Regions from separate parts of the Homo sapiens genome. Here region 2 is linked to region 1. Evidence: fine-mapped expression QTL. A gene starts in region 1. The other region holds a variant in brackets. All regions are shown on one strand. Distances are between the middles of the regions.

The links. PIP is the estimated chance that this variant, and not a neighbour inherited with it, causes the effect.
Region 2: its variant is fine-mapped to the expression of ALKBH8 in whole blood (TOPMed, PIP above 0.99).

The regions. Positions count from the first base shown.
Region 1 is chr11:107,560,895-107,569,238 of GRCh38, reverse strand. It overlaps ALKBH8 (alkB homolog 8, tRNA methyltransferase), which reads left to right and starts at 3,504. Exons shown (of 12, transcript NM_138775.3): 1 at 3,504-3,638; 2 at 8,340-8,344. RefSeq lists enhancers at 1,204-1,283, 3,212-3,271, 3,118-3,634, 3,342-3,831, 3,635-4,153.
Region 2 is chr11:107,502,573-107,510,916 of GRCh38, reverse strand. ALKBH8 (alkB homolog 8, tRNA methyltransferase) reads left to right here. Exons shown (of 12, transcript NM_138775.3): 11 at 1-30; 12 at 5,702-8,190. The coding sequence ends at 6,259. Among named protein-coding and RNA genes, the nearest start is that of CWF19L2, 49 kb to the right of the region's middle. The variant T/G (reference allele first, on the strand shown) is at 3,070.

The DNA of each region.
Region 1 (8,344 bases):
ACAGAGCTTGCAGTGAGCCGAGATCGCACCACTGCACTCCAGCCTGGGCAACAGAGCGACTCCGTCTCAAAAAAAAATAAAAATAAAAATAAAAAAATAAAAAACAAAAAACAAAAAATTAGCTGGGCATGGTGGCGCGTGCCTGTAATCCCATCTACTCAGGAGGCTGAGGCAGAAGAATCGCTTGAATCCAGGGGGCAGAGGTTGAAGTGAGCTGAGATTGTGCCACTGCACTCCAGCCTGGGCGACAGAGTGCGACTCCATCCCAAAAAATAAAAGTAAAAAAATAAAAACAAAGAATATTTGGCCACAAAGCTGAAAATATTTATTATCTGGTCCTTTACAGTAAAATCTTGCTGACCCCACTACTAGTCACATAGAGGACTCACCTCTCATGAAGTTGAGACTAAGGTTTTACTAAGGAAACAGGTCAGCATTTCATACTTTTGAAAAATTATTATAGATCACCATGTAAAGTGTTTGGCACAGGTGAAGATGAATTATATCTTCAAATAAAAATTCCTTTTCAGCTCAACATTTATTAAATTTCTAGTATTACAAGACTATGGAAGACATTGTGGTTACATAATAAATAAAACAAGGTCTCAGTGTACCTGAAAATCTTTTGGGGAATCATCTTCCTTAGAAGAAATGGTCTATGCAATATTCCAAGAAAAGATAAGGGTCTGTATACAAAGGATGTCACACAAAATTGTATATGTATTCACCTTTTTCTGGAGATATTGAGACATGGATGGGCAGCAGATAATGGGAAATGAAGGCTTGTAACTCAGGAGAAGAAGATAAATGAATAATCACTTAACAGCTAATCTCTGTTTGGTGTTTTATTAATTATCACGTAAATCTCAACAAAATAAATGCTGTTTTGTAGTTTTGATTTCAGGTCATACTCCAATGCCCCCATATTCTTTAGAAACCACTCTGGTTTCTAAAGGGAAGTGTTAATCAAGTTTAGCCTAAAGCTGCCTCCTTACATATTTAAGTTCAGCCTAAAGGTTTTTCTGTACATCGTGAACAAGTGGAGGAGTAAACCAACCATAGCCCACACCTGTGCCAATCGCTGAGTTTTGGCCAATCAAATGTAGCCAATTGTTTGAACAGTGTTCAAATAAGGCAAACACCAACCTGTAACCAATAACAGCTGTTTCTGCACCTCACTTCTGATTTCTGTACATCATTTCCTTTTTTTTTTTTTGTCTACAAATCCTCCACCACATGGCTGTGCTGGAGTCTCTCCAAATCTGCTGTGATTCTGGGGGCTGCCCGATTTACGAATCAAAAGTTCATTGCTCAATTAAACTCCTTTAAATTTAATTTGGCTAAAGTTTTTCTTTTAATAGAAGCCAGGGCTGAAGATAAAGATTAGGGAATGATTCACAAATCTCTTTATAACTCTGGGGAGGGCAGACAGGAAGAGACTAGAATAACAGAAAAGAGTCAAACTCAAAATCTGAGGGATTGCCTATATTTAATTACGGACAGAGTGAGAGAAACTAGTGGAAAATTCTGAAAGTAAGTGATCAGATCGTATAAAGAGAATTAAAAGAGAGGTGCAGAAAAAAAGTTTTAAAAGCTTCAGCACCTTAAAGCAGGACAAATACTGAGATGAAGTAATTGAATTTGATCAGTAAGAGATAAGAGGATATTTTACACTGTTATCCAGTTTGGTAGACACCGGCCACTTGTGGCTACTTAAGTTTAATTGAAACTAAAATTTAAACATTCAAAATTCATTTCCTTAGTCATACTAGCCACATTTGAAATGCTCATAAGCCACACGTTAACTAGTGTCTATTATGTTGGACAGCTCAAACTATAAAATATTTCCATCATTGCAGAAAGCTCTATGGGGATGTGTTTTTGAAAGCATCCAGTAGTGCAGAAGCAGAATTGCAATGGGGAGATTTCCTGTGTGTCCTCTTATACTCATGTAGCTTGCAATGTCTGGTGGATTTGACCTCTCCAGCTTGCACTTGCCTCCTCATTTTTACTATTAAGTTTTGGTCTCACCCTTTCTTTCCTAGACTATTGCAATGCTTGCCTATCTGCCTCTTCTGTTCTTTCATGTTTGTAACCTATTCTCCACACAAATCATTCCGCCACTCAACAGCACTCTTTTTTCACTGCCACTTTTCCTGGTCAGCCAGCTATTTTATTGTTAGTCCACTGTGGTGCACTGCAGATAGGGGCCATTGTATCAACAACATGGGAAGGTGATTCCTCTTCCCCTACACCTTTCCCTCCCTGCACTCACATAGCTCATAAACCAATGCAGGTAGAAGGATTATGGTACATTTATATAACAAATAACAGAGCAGGAACAACTGCTAATCATCACCCTCTCCTTTGTCTTTTACTTATGATCTGTTACCAGCTCTTTTTTCTTTCCCTCTGCCACTACTGGGCTTGTTAATATTTCGTTACTTTTCACTTCATCAGTCATCTTCTAGTCTCTCCTCCCACTTGCCACAAGAAGCTCTGGTCATATCATTTCATTTCTCTAACCTTCCTCCCTGCAACTCCCACTCTGCAGGCCTACAGAATTCTGTCTTGCTTCCTTCACCATTCTTCCACACATCTTTCTATTACTCTGTGGTACTCACCATTCCCCTGGCACATTCATGCATATTCACTTCCTTCCCTCCCGCCCATGCAATGCCATCTTTCAGACCCCAGGATCCTCTCCCATATCTCTGTGAACCCTGAATATCTGAGACAGGTCTCAGACAATTTAGGAAATTTATTTTGCCAAAGTTAAGGACGCCCGCCCGTGACACAGCCTCAGGAGGTCCTGATGATATGTGTCCAGGGTGGTCGGGGCACAGCTTGGTTTTATACATTTTAGGGAGACATGAGGCATCAATCAATATATGTAAGATGAACATTGGTTCCGTCCAGAAAGGAGGGACAAATTGAAGCAGAGGCGGGCCAACTCAAAGTGAGGAGGGGGCTTCCAGGTCGCACGTATTACAGCTGAGAGACAAATGGTTGCATTCTTTTGAGTTTCTGATGAGCCTTTCCAAAGGAGGCAATCAGATATGCATTTATCTCAGTGAGCAGAGGGATGACTCAGAGGGATGACTTTGAATAGAATGGGAGGCAGGTTTGCCCAAGCAGTTCCTAGCTTGACTTTTCCCTTTAGCTTAGTGATTTTGTGGCACCAAGATTTATTTTCCTTTCTCACCTCTAATAAGATTCAGGAGGAAATATGCACGAAGAATAGAAGGTGCCAGGGGACATTGCTGAAAGACCAAAGGGCCCAAACCTGTTTGACCTTGTCCATTTGGAGAGCAACAGATAAAAATATAGCTGCACTACCAATTATTACTACTCCCCCCAAAAAGACAACTGAATTTTCAGTGTAACAGACAGCACTTTACAAAGACACTTGGTCGAAAAAGGGTCACTCCCGGGCTCTGGGAGGCGAAGAGGACTGTGGGAGCGCTGTTCGTTGTCCCGCGGGCTCATGGGAAATGTAGTGCAGTTTTCTCCAACATGGCCGCGCCCAGGGGAGATGGCGTGCAAGTATCCGCTGCGGTGTTCTGGTGCTAGAGTGGAGAGGCTGGCAAAGAAGAAGGCACACGCATGGTGAGAATCCGGCCTGAGCCGAAGCGGAGGTGTGTGGCACTTCTTACTGGCGGGCATACGGGCAGCAAATCACCGCTTCCTCTTTTCAGCCTCTTCCGGTCTTCTCTATCCGCCTTGCCAGCTAGGGCTGAGAACCTAGGGAAAGGGGATGGATCCCAGAGGCGCCCTTGGTGCAGTGTGGGCAGTAGGGTGTCTGCGTTGGGTGGTTCTCTCAGTGTTTAGGGTGCATGTGTTTGTGTTTGGTTCGGGCGCTCACGTGGTGCCTGTGTCAATCTTCTGTTTTCTTTGGGGTTGGAGAGGACGGTTGCAACATGGGGCGTGTTAGTGTGGCGCTTCTGGGGCTTTTCTGACCGGTGACAATCGGTCTGATTGCATCGATGCAAAGGCAGTGCTGATGATCTGATCCCTTGCGCAGCTGAGTCTTCCTGTGCTCTTATTTGAGCAATCCCTGCGACTCCTGGACCTCTGGTAGCGTCAGCCTGTTATTTTGATAGATTTCATTGAATATTTATTGTCAGTTGTATGTCAGGCACCAAGTCTGTGCCCTTAAATAGATGACAGTTTTCTGGCCGAAGCCCAACACAAACAGGCAATTATAATACCATGTGAGAACTCTAGAGATAGAGGTCCATGCTAGGTGTTAATGAAAACGTTGAAGAAGGCCACCAAACTCAGAATTCTGGAGGAGGGGAGGTTTAGGAGGTAAGACAGCAAAGTCGATTTAGGTTTATTCGACAAATGGTTATTGAGTGGCTGCTAGGTGCTAAATCCTGTTTAAGTGCTGGGTGCTACAGGGTGAACAATAGAGACAAAATCTCTACTTCATGGAGTGAGTGTTCTTTATTCAGTTATGGGGAAAGACAGAATAAACAAATTAATGAGAGTGTAAGAAAATATGTAGTAAGTGTTATTCAAAGAGTTAAAACGGGGTGCCGTGACAAGTGATGGGGTGAATTTTTTTCTAAAAATTTTAAATCTTTATTTTCTTTTTAAATAGATGATGCAGTTTAAATAGCTACTAACTTCAAAAGTCATGAAAGAAGAAAGCTCCCTTTCATTCCTTTACTCATCGATCCATTTTCCTTCCCTGGAGGCAACCCATATCACCAATTTCTTGTGTGTCCTAAAGATTTATATGTAAACTCTGTATACCAGTGCCGTACGTTAAAATTGGGCCTCGTTTGATAGGAAGTTAGATTCTTTCTAATCTTTGCTATTAATTATTAGGTTGTGCAAAAGTAATCATGGTTTTTGCATTTTTTTAAACATATAAGTATAGGAACATTTGTCTATACTGCTTGTTTCATAATAGGCTCTCTATTATTCAAGGAGGGCATGATGTACATACTACTATTACCACGTAGGGCAATATCTAGTAGGATATATTGGCTTTAAACTCACTAACAAGCAAGTAGCAGAGCATGCATAATCTCCAAACTTTCATTATCCCACAGAGAGTACGCTTAGGCTGGAGCTGGCTGAACCGGACTCAGCATGGCTAGTATCATAGTTAATAGTGACTTCACTCCAGTAATGTCACAGGGAGCATCCAAGTATCTGTGCATTAGTGGAAACTCTGGCCAGGGAAGTGGCTTTGTCAGAAGGGGGCACCTCCAGACCTCAGCAGCTGGTATCAGCCTATCCTTGTTGAGATGACTCAGATATGTTGGGCCAGCACATTGCCTAGCCACTGGAATGGTGGAAAACTGAGCCTCAAAGGCCATTTAGTGTCTTTCTTCACGTGCAATAATATTGCATGACTGAGGGAGAGAAAAAGGAAAGGGATGACAAAAATGTGGTTATGAGGCTCCACCTGCTGGTGCTGGACTCTTAGTGGCAGACATTTTAAAAAGATATATTTAGCATCGTTTCTTTCTCATTCCTTCTTTGCAGTGTTTGCTCATGTGAAATATTAAAAATTCTGTAGTGCAGTCATCCCTTGTTCTCCATGACATACTGCAAAGTTGCTGTTCCACAGATGAAGATCTTGAAATGGAATGGCTCTAAAATAGCTCCTTTGAAGGGCCTCAGATATTCTTTGTTTTGTTAAGCCATTTTGATCTGCTGCTTCTGAAAATCAACAGTAATAAATAAATAATAATAAATAAATTTAATTCTAAGAAAGCTATGGGATAGGCACTATTATTTTTATCCCTATTCCTAGATAAAGAAACTGGAACACAGAGCTATATAACCAACTCATCTAGGATTATACAGCTAATAATCAGTGGTTGAGCTGAGATTTGAACCTGGAACATGGACTCCTAAACACTGTATTATATTACCTCATAGCACTGAATGAGGCTCTGTGGTAACTAAGAAAAGTGTGATTTAATCCCGCCTTCAGAAAGCTCACAGTTCAGTGGAAGGGGACAGATACTAAAACAAATAATTATAATTAATGCAATGTTAGACATGTCCATTCACTTATCCCCTTCCTGTCTTAATGACGACTGACTCCTAAACCTTTTTAACCTCAGTTCCTTTCCTAGGAGCCACTTTATTTTGTCACTTGCCAGCCAGACATTGCAACTCTGTATCTCACAATACCTTAAACATTATTCTATCCTAAATATGACTCATTACCTCCTATACTGAGCAGCTCTTCCTGAACCTCCTCCTGACTTTCCAGTTTTGAAGTGGTAGCACTCATCTCTTAGTCACTCAGCCTCTAACTGGTTAACAAGTAATCTTTGATTCCTGTCTCCCTCATATCTGGGTAGTCATCGAGGCCTCTTGATTCCGCCTGAACTTTTCACTCACCCTTCCTCTTTCTCCTCTCCCCCTATTTCGCTTCTTTCTGTTGCCCCCAGCCTAGATCAGGCCAGCATTTCTAATTAACAAGCTGGATTATTATTATTATTTTTTTTACCTCTCATCTCTCTGCTATGCTGCCAGCCAGCCTGCCTGCCTCACTGGCCTTACATCCTAGTATGTACCCCCTGTGCTAGGAAGCTGGACTGCTGGCATTTTAAGAGACTTGGCATTTGTCTTCTATACTAAAGATTAGTAATTAGAATTTTGACTGTTTATGATTTCATGTGAAATAAGATAAATAAGATTTTATTTAACCCCCAAATTTGTATATTTGGTTGACTTTGAAGACTTTAAAGTCCGCAGAGAGTGGGACCGGTCTAAAAAAATTATGCCTGTGTCTTGGTGTCTTGGCCAAACATGTCCATTTTGGTTTTAGCTTCTGCTCTTTACTGCCTCACTGAATACTTTCCTTTTTATTTGATTCTATAGTGTTCTTATCCTTCAGTACATGGCACAAATCTCCTGTTTTGAGGCCTTCCCAACTTTTCCAGTTTACATACTTTTTTTTTTTTTTTGAGATGGAATTTCACTCTGTTGCCAGGCTGGAGTGTAGTAGCATGATCTTGGCTCACTGCAACCTCTGCCTCCCGGGTTCAAGCGATTCTCGTGCCTCAGCCTCCCAAGTAGTTGGGACTACAGGTGCCCACCACCACACGTGGCTAATTTTTTGTACTTTTAGTAGAGACAGAGTTTCACCATGTTGACCAGGCTGGTCTTGAACTCCTGACCTCAAGTGATCTGCCTGCCTTGGCCTCCTAAAGATTACAGGTGTGAGTCACTGCTCCCAGCCCACATCCATCTTATTTTTGTCTCTAATTTGTGTCATACCTAAAGACTGTACCATCAGCATTAAATTATATAAAGATGTGTCATAGTCTTATTGTTTAGTGTTTGTTTTCCACAACTAAGTTACAAACTTGTTGAAAGCATAAACTATGTACTTTATTATGGTTGCATGCTGCAGGGTGCTGAGACTGTGTGTATTCACTCATTTATTATTCATTTAGCCCTACCATCAAATATTTATTGAGCAACTACTATGTGCTGGCATTCCTGCTCTCTTGGGATTTATATCATGATGGAGGAGTTAAGCTAACAGATGAATCATCACAAATTATGTTACATTTTGTGAACAAAATAAAAGACTACTGTGATAAAGTGTGATAAAGCATGATATTGGGTGCTGATTTGGATGGTGTGATTATAGAGACCTCTTTGGGATTCTGTTATTTAAAAAATTGTAGATATAAAATATATGACACATACAGTTTTTAAAATAGTAAAACAAACACCTACACCTACCATGTAACTGAAGAAACACCCTTTGATGCTCCTATGTGTCACTTTCATGTTAATTTCCTTTCCTTTCACCCACAGAAATAGCCTCTCTCCTGAATTTTGTGTTTATAATTTCCTTGCTTTTTTTTTTGGCACTGCTATGTATGTATTTCTAAATAATATATGGCTTACTTTTTGATTATGACCTTTATGTAAATGGAATCATACTGTAGAGTCTGCTAATTTTTTGTGTGTTATTTCTCCCCCCACCGCTCCCCTGCCTGCTCCTTGCCTTGGTTTACGTTATAGTTGTGAAATTTGTGTATGGCACATTTTACTTAGGACCTCATAAGTAAAGAATTCATCACCTATGAGTAAAATAGCACACTTAATGGAGCTACCACATTGGAACATTTTTTAGAACCATCAGAGCTATGCTATTAGATATTCTTAGATATTTGTTCATTTTTTATTTATCTGTTCTCACTTCTCTTAGTTGGTACAAGGTAAATGAAGCATTTTTAAAAAATTGTCACAGAAATATTGATAAACTATAGAATGTATGAATAACATCATTATAATTGTTCCTTCAGGACTCTTAAGGTTGACTTTTTTACTGTCTTGTTTTTTTACAGTTTGC
Region 2 (8,344 bases), 58 kb after region 1:
ATTGCTGTTATTCATCATTTTGCAACAGCAGTAAGTATGGTCTTTCTTTCTCTTAAGAACTTGTAGCTAAAGCAGCAGGAAGAGTTCATGAATTTTGCTGATTTTGGACCCTGTTTTAGCTTTTCAGTTCTTTCCGTTCTCTTTTCTTGTCACAGTTTTCCCTCTTTGTAAGAGAGCATGCAGAATAAAGATGGGCAACTGTTTAAGTATCTTCTACTTAAACAGAGGCCTGATGGGACTCTACCCTTTATTGCTGCATGCTTTCGCCCCTTTCCTACCCCAAGTCTCATTCACTTCTAAATGCCTTCCTTTAAACCCAGAGTCACAGAATTTTAGCTGGAAGAGAATTTGAGATCATCAGCTCCAAGCTTCTTGAGTATACTCTCTCCTCAGACTCTATGAGTCCCTTCTGTATTTCTTTCTCAGCTTTTCTTTCTCAACCCATAGTTTTATCCCTGACATGTGAGTGTTACTTCTTTCCCATTCTGTTTTTCTTCCTTTCCTGTTCTTTTTTTTCAAAACTCTGTCTTTTTTAGCTGGTAGTAGTATGTTGACTCTTAGTATGTTCTTAGTTTTAAAATAAATGAATTTAATATTTAATATTTTCTTTCTTTCTTTAAAGAACAAAAGACCACTTATTTTTCTTGGGTGTCAGCAGTCATTCCCTTGATTTATGCAATAGCTTTATAGCTCACCTTATGGGTCACCAGCAGTTTCAGTAGACCTTATGACCTTAACTGAGTTCAAAACAAATCAAAACAAATCAGAAAACTGTCTGCGTCTTTAGTCTTTTTACTTTTAATAGTAACCAAGAGATTCTGCTGGGCTGCAGCAAACAATATTAGGTTTTTTACAGCAAAAGCCACTAGGCCTCAGTGGCTTTCAGAGGCATGACTGCAAATAGAGGAAGGCTTGAAAGGAGCAGCTATACCAGTAAATTTAAAAATCCGCTTCATTTGGAAGAAATGTTTGGCACATATTGGTTGCTTCAGCTACAACTCAGTTGTTGTATTATAACTTATTTTCAAGTTATAAAAGACAATAATGTACACAAATATATCTATATCCATTTTTTGCAATCACAAATATATGTTGGATACCCTCCCCTCTATGAAGTTCTATATGATCGTCTTAGAAATCTGTCATGTCCAACTTTCTCTACATATCTATTGTCATTTATTTAAAAAATAATTCATTGACCACATGGAAAAGAATGAAGTTGGATCCTTACATTACACCATATGCAAAGAAAAACCTCAAAATGGATCAAAGACTTATACAGAAGAGCTAAAACTATAAAATTCTAAGAAGAAAACAGGAGGAAAACCTTCATGACGTTGTATTTGGCAATGATTTCTTGGATATGATACTAAAAGCACAGGCAACAAAACAAAAAATAGATAAATTAGACCATCAAAATTAAAAACTTGTACATCAAACAACACTATCTGCAGAGTGAAAAGGTAGCCCACAAAATAGGAGAAAATATTTGCAAATTGTATATCTGATAAGGAATTAATATCCATAATATATAAAGAACAACAAAAATACAACAATAACAAAACAATTTAAAAATGGACAGAGGACTTAAATAGACATTTTTCCAAAGAAGATATACAAATGGCCAATGAGCACATGAAAAGATACTCAGCATCACTAATCATTAGGGAATGCAAATCAAAACCATAATGAGATACCACTTCACATACATTAGGATGGCTATTATCGGAAATATAGAAAATAACAAGTGTTGGCAAGGATGTGGAGAAATTGGAACTCTTGTGCATTGCTGGTGGGAATGTAAAATGGATCAGCCACTGTGGAAAACAGTACAGTGGTTCCTCAAAAAGTTGAACATAGAATTACCACATGATTCAGCAATTCTGCTTCTAGATATATACCCAAAAGAATTGAAAGCAGAGACTTGAACAGATATTTATACACCTACGTTCATAGCAGCATTATTCACAACAGCCAAAAGGTGCAAACAACTCAAATGTTCATTAATGGATGAATAGATAAACAAAACATGCTATGTACCTATAAGGGAATATTATTAAGCCTTAGGAAGGAAATTCTGACACATGCTACAACATGGATGAACCTTGAGGATATTATGCTAAGTGAAATAAGCCAGATGCAAAAGGACAAATACTATATCATTCTACTTACATGAACTACTTAGAATAGTTAAATTCATAGAGACAGAAAGTGGAACAGTTGTTACCAGAGGCTGTGGGAGGGAGGCATGGGAGTTGCTATGATTTAATTGATACAGAGTTTCAGTTTGGCATGATGAAAAAAATTCTGGAGATGGATAATAGTGATGGTTGCACAACCATTAAGTATGAATGTACTTAATGTCACTCAGTTGTACACTTAAAAATGGTTAAAATAGCAAATTTTGTTACATATATTTTACCACAATAAAAATAAGTCATTGAGGCCAGCTGTCGTGGCTCACGCCTGTCATCCCAGTGCTTTGGAAGGACAAAGCGAGTGGATCACTTGAGGTCAGGAGTCTGAGACCAGACTGGCCAACAAAGCAAAACCTCATCTTTACTAAAAATACAAAAGTTATCTGGGTTGATTGGCGCATGCCTGTAATCCCAGCTACTCAGGAGACTGAGACATGAGAATCACATGAACCCAGGAGGTGTGGAAGTTGCAGTGAGCCGAGATCGTGCCCACTGTACTCCAGCCTGGGTGACAGAGACTCCATCTCAAAAAAAAAAAAAAAAAAGGCATTGAAAATCAGTTACACACTGCTATTAAGCAAATAGCTGGGCACAAGATGGAGAAGACCCAGTCCCTGCTTCATAGAGCTCATAGTTTAGTGGAGGAGGCAGCATTTATTTATTTATTTATAATTTGTTGGATTTATGTGTTGTTGGTTGAATGCCATAGTTATAATTTGGACTTAGAGAGTCATTGAAAGGTCTAACACATGGGAATACCTTGATGAAATAAATGCCTGATAGAGATCATTTTTATGGCACTGTGAAAGATGATATAGGGTAGAAGATAAGATTTTATGTGGAAAATCTCATCCAAGTATATGGACACAAC[T/G]AGGTAAGGGAATTAAAAGAGTCTACTGACCTGTGCCACATCCCTTCACTACTGCAGTGTTCTTTTCAACTGATCCCAGGATATCTCTATTTTAATCCAGTTTACATTCTAGTGTCAGTCTCTTCTTCCCTGACACCACTGCTTCGACTATTTGACATTCTTTTTACTTTTGTGACCTTGAACAAACATTTTTAGTGATTTCTGAATACTTAGGTTGCTCAACTGTAAAACAATCTCACAGGCCTGTCAGGATAAATGAGACAATACATAAAGTACTTGTTATAGTGTCTTATACATAATAAGAGCTCAGAAAATATTAGTTATTATTATTTTAATAATCTTTTTTTCAACCATTTTTATAAAATGGTCTCGTCTTATTTTTTAGCTTAATTTCCCGATATTTCCCAGCTCCTTAAACCCAACTTGGAAAAATCCTCACAAAGTTTCCTCCTATTAATTCACTTCTCTATGTATCAGTCATGCTGAAGATGCTTCCTCCTATTTTAACATATAACCTGAGATTATTTCCTGGGCTTTTTGGCCATTTTGAATGGGCTACTTGGGTGTACAATACAATGTGTGTTACTTTGACAATTAAGGAAGGCATTATCTAAGGCTAAGAGAGCTGTGGAACTGGAAATATTAATTTCTGTTTATCAAATATTGTATGTATCTTAGTTCTCTTTCATTGCCAGCCTTATTTCCATAATGTAGTTTATAATTACATTTTTTCCTCTTTTGTTAGCTTGCTGACTAGATATTCTTTCATTGTTTTTTAAATGGTTACCCTAGACATGACAACATGTATCTCTGACATTATAGTCTACCTTAAATTGGCATGATTACCCCTTCCTGACAATGTAAGACTTCATTAATAACATTTAACCCCTTCTGCCCTTTATTGCATTATTATTATATGCTACTGTTTTATTGTTTTAAGCTCTCAACCTTCATTTATATTTCTTCACTTTATTTACCCTTTCTGGTATTCTTCCTTTTCTCCTACATCTTCAGAGTTTCAGAGGAAGTAAGTTTCTTTTGCTCGAAGAGTTCTCTGTGCTGTTTTCTTTAGTGACACATTCTCTCAGCTTGTGTGTATCTGAAACCTCTTTATGTTGCCTTCATCTTACAAATTATATTTTTAGTAGGTATTAAATTCTCGATTGACACTGTTTTCTGTATTTTCCCCTCTTTTTCATCTCTGTGCTTCAATCTGGGTAACTTATACTGACTTGAACTATAGTTTAATACTTATCTTTGTAAATGTATCTAATTTGCTAAAAATTTAAATTCATCTTGTTTTCTAGAATTTCCGACTTCTTAATGTATTTTATCATTACTGAAATTCTTGATCTTTTCCTCTGGTTTTTTGAGCATACTAACCATAGTTATTAAAAAGGCTTTGTCTGGGGATTTATTTCTATGGTCTTTTTTTTTTCTCTGTTTTTCAGTCCTTTGGTCCTCATTTTTAACATACTTCATAATTTTTCACTGTATGCTGGGCATTTTATGTTAAAAGATTTGGGTACTTTTTCTCTGAAGGAAGTTAAATTTTTCTAAGGAGAAGCAGATAAAGTATAAGCAGATCACTTTCATTCTGCAGAGAACTGGTTTTATGCTTTATTGGGGATGATTTATATCTATTTTATTTTTGTTCCTACTTCTGTAATGTAGCCCTTCTGGGTCTCAAGTGAAAGCCTGGAATGTACTCCAAGGCTATTTTATACCTTGGCAGATCTTAAATTCCAATGTCTGTCTCTCTAACATTGGCTGCTAAAATTTTTGTTTAGCATTTTAACTTCCCAGCTGCTACTCTGCTGAGTTTCTTGGAATTTCACCCTGTGTACATGCTGCTTAGAAACTGGCAAATGCTTCAAAGGGTGTTTGCATATAGATTTTCAGAATAATTTTCCTGCAGCTTCTCCTTTATCTGTGACTCTGTCCCTCAGCTGCTTTGACCTCCCTGTACTCTGAGCCCTATCTGTTCAGGCCACTAAGGCCTCTGCATTCTGCTCATATTCTGTTGTCCCACATTATGAATTTGCAGATAATCTCAGGGAAAAGCTGGAGTGAATCTAGAGCTCACCTTGGCTTACTTCCCTTCTCTCAGGGATTACAGCCCTTCAAGGCCTGCCTGCAGTGTTACTCTCCAGTGCCTTAAGCAGCTGTTTTATGTATTTCACCCAGCCTTTCTGGTTGTTTTCAGTGGGAGAATTAATACAAACAACTTCGTCAAGGCTATAAGTAGAAGTCTCCATAGTATAGTTGACACGATTCCTTTGTAAAAGCATTATATAAATGATTAATGTCAAAGTGCTTCATATTACCGCTTATAGCCCTAGAAGAAGTCATCAGTTGTTTCATGTATCCTAGCCAGACAGTTAAGGAAAAGTCACAGGGAAGATTAACAGAAATAAATTTTGCTTTTCTGTACTTCCTCCTTCCTGAACACTTTTTTTCTTAATCACAGAACAGAATGCTCTTTCTTCTTTTTTTCCTTTTTGTTTTACATAAGATATTTTGTTAGATATTCTTATTGTTCATCCTAATTGAAAACAGTCCTATGGTCAGTTTTATTTTCTGATTTCCTGTCTCTTCCAGGTTGATCATGTGTTTTGTTTTTTTTCATTAGGAGCGTAGAGTGGCAGCTCTCCAAGAAATTGTTCGACTCCTGAGACCAGGTGGGAAGGCACTCATTTATGTCTGGGCAATGGAACAAGAATATAATAAGCAGAAGTCCAAGTATCTTAGAGGAAACAGAAATAGCCAAGGAAAGAAAGAGGAGATGAACAGTGATACCTCAGTGCAGAGGTCACTTGTGGAGCAAATGCGTGACATGGGCAGTCGAGACTCGGCATCTTCTGTCCCCCGCATTAATGACTCTCAGGAAGGAGGATGTAATTCAAGGCAAGTTTCTAATTCCAAGCTGCCTGTTCATGTTAACAGGACTTCTTTTTATTCTCAAGATGTACTGGTTCCCTGGCACCTTAAGGGAAATCCTGATAAAGGCAAACCTGTTGAGCCATTTGGTCCCATAGGATCCCAGGACCCAAGTCCTGTGTTTCATCGTTACTACCATGTGTTCCGTGAGGGAGAACTGGAAGGTGCCTGCAGGACTGTGAGTGATGTCAGAATTCTGCAAAGCTACTACGATCAAGGAAACTGGTGTGTGATTCTTCAAAAGGCCTGATTATTTACCTGAACACATCATATATAAAGAAGAAATGCTCACTTAAAAAAAAAGAGAGAATAAATTAATTACCCTTTTAATTAAAGAGAAAACTTGTGGGAAAGTACCAAAGGAAAGCTGAGAAAAATTTGGAAGTAGGGATTCATTAGGAGACATTCAAATGTCTCCTGTTGGCTGACATCACAGATGTGGTGTTGGCTCCTCCTACTTCCCTAGGAGAGGTGGTTTCTAAAAGTGATTGAAGCAGTTTGTGCAGTGTTTGTAATTCTTGGGTAAGAGCCCAGGATTTTGAAGATAATAGTTTTTTAGTAAAGTGCTACTAAATGTAGTAAATCATGTAGGATTTTAGGGATGTAATTATATGTTAATACAGAAAATAGTCCTGGTCAATAGAAAATTGTCTGAAGTTTTACCTATGATTTTTAGCTCTGTAAAATCATAGACAATAACCATTCTATTTCCATGCCTGACTAGCCCAGGGCTGGACGTATAGCGGGTGTCCAATAACGTTTAGTCAATCAGATAATACCCAGAACTTAGTAGGAGTTTCATTCAAAAACTATTTTTTGAACCCAACCATGTACCAGTTACTATTTTAAGTACTGATAATGAAGCAGTGAATAAGAAAGAGCAAAGCTCTTGCCCTTATGGTGCTTACATTCTAGACGGGGAGACAGACAGCAGGCAAATCAATAAATAGATACTATGTGCCAGATAGTGATAAATGCCATGAAAAACATAAAATGAGAGACGATTCACCTTGGAGCAAAAGATTACTTTTAAGTGACTGAAATAACTACTAATCCTGACTAATTTATTATCAAGAGTTAATTGGTATTCCAAATTCATTGAGCAGGGTGCTAAAAACAACCCAAATGTGCTCCTTTAACTCCTTTGTTTAAATGACAAAAGTTAGAATGTGGTCACTCAGACCTAACTGTGCCCTTAGAGCCAAAGCTGTGGTGTCATTATTGGTTATTTCTAGTTGATTCATAGTTTGTCCCAATCCAGGTTCAATCGGGTTATTTTTAAGATCTGTACAATATTGCATAATAGTAACCCAGTTAACTTACCACTTAGGTTAGATTTCCTGGAGGAACAAAGGTAGAAATTCAACCATAGGTCAAATTATCACATAGAAGGAAAAGGCTTTTTTTCAAAGAAAAAATTTTTTGAACACTTTACTCCCAGTATGCATTACTTTTGTAGTAGTAATGCTTAAGACTGTTTTAAAGAAAAATTGCTTTCTGTTTAATTAATGTTTACTGTTATTAATGCTAGTGATACTTAATCTTGAAGCATCAAGTTTTCAGAAACCTATAGTGATCAATAATGGGTCTCAGATGAGAGGATGATTATTTTTTTCATGGAATTTCAGTCCAACATCCTGGTGTACTGGTCCCTCTGGGATGAATTTATAAGGCTCATGATATAGGAAAAGGAATATAGGGCTAAAAATAGTTTTATTTCTGATATAAATTCTGGTACTTGACACCAAAGTTTGAAGTCAAGTCATGCCAATAAATTTTAACATCCAAATGAAATAGATGATTTTCTATGAAGATGAAAAATACCAAAATTGACTCAAGAAGGGAGAGAAAATGGAAGATGTTGAAAAATAGCATAGGAATTCAGAACTGGGCTCTAGAATCAGATTTCCTGAGAGTTGAATTCTAGATCTGCCATTTATTAGCTGTGGGATTTTGGGCAAATTTCTTGACTTTCTGTGCTTCAGTTTTCTTAGCTGTAAAATTGGAAGAGTTGTTATGAAAATTCACTGAAAGTATATTTGTATACATCATAGGATAGTGTAAGAATATAGTATGGCTTTGAGAAATGTTCATTATTATTACTCCCAGAGGAGTTTTAGGTATTAAGTGATGCCAAATATAATTTGTTAATTGTATAATAAAAATCTATATTCTTACTGACTTTTTTTGGTCTGCTCATTCTTATAAGTTGAGACAGATGTTTTAAAATCTGACACTATGATGATGGATTTCTCTGTTTTTCTCTATAGGGTTGTCAGTAGCAATAGTACAAATCTGGAAAAAGTCCAAATGTCCATCAACAGTAGAGTGAGTA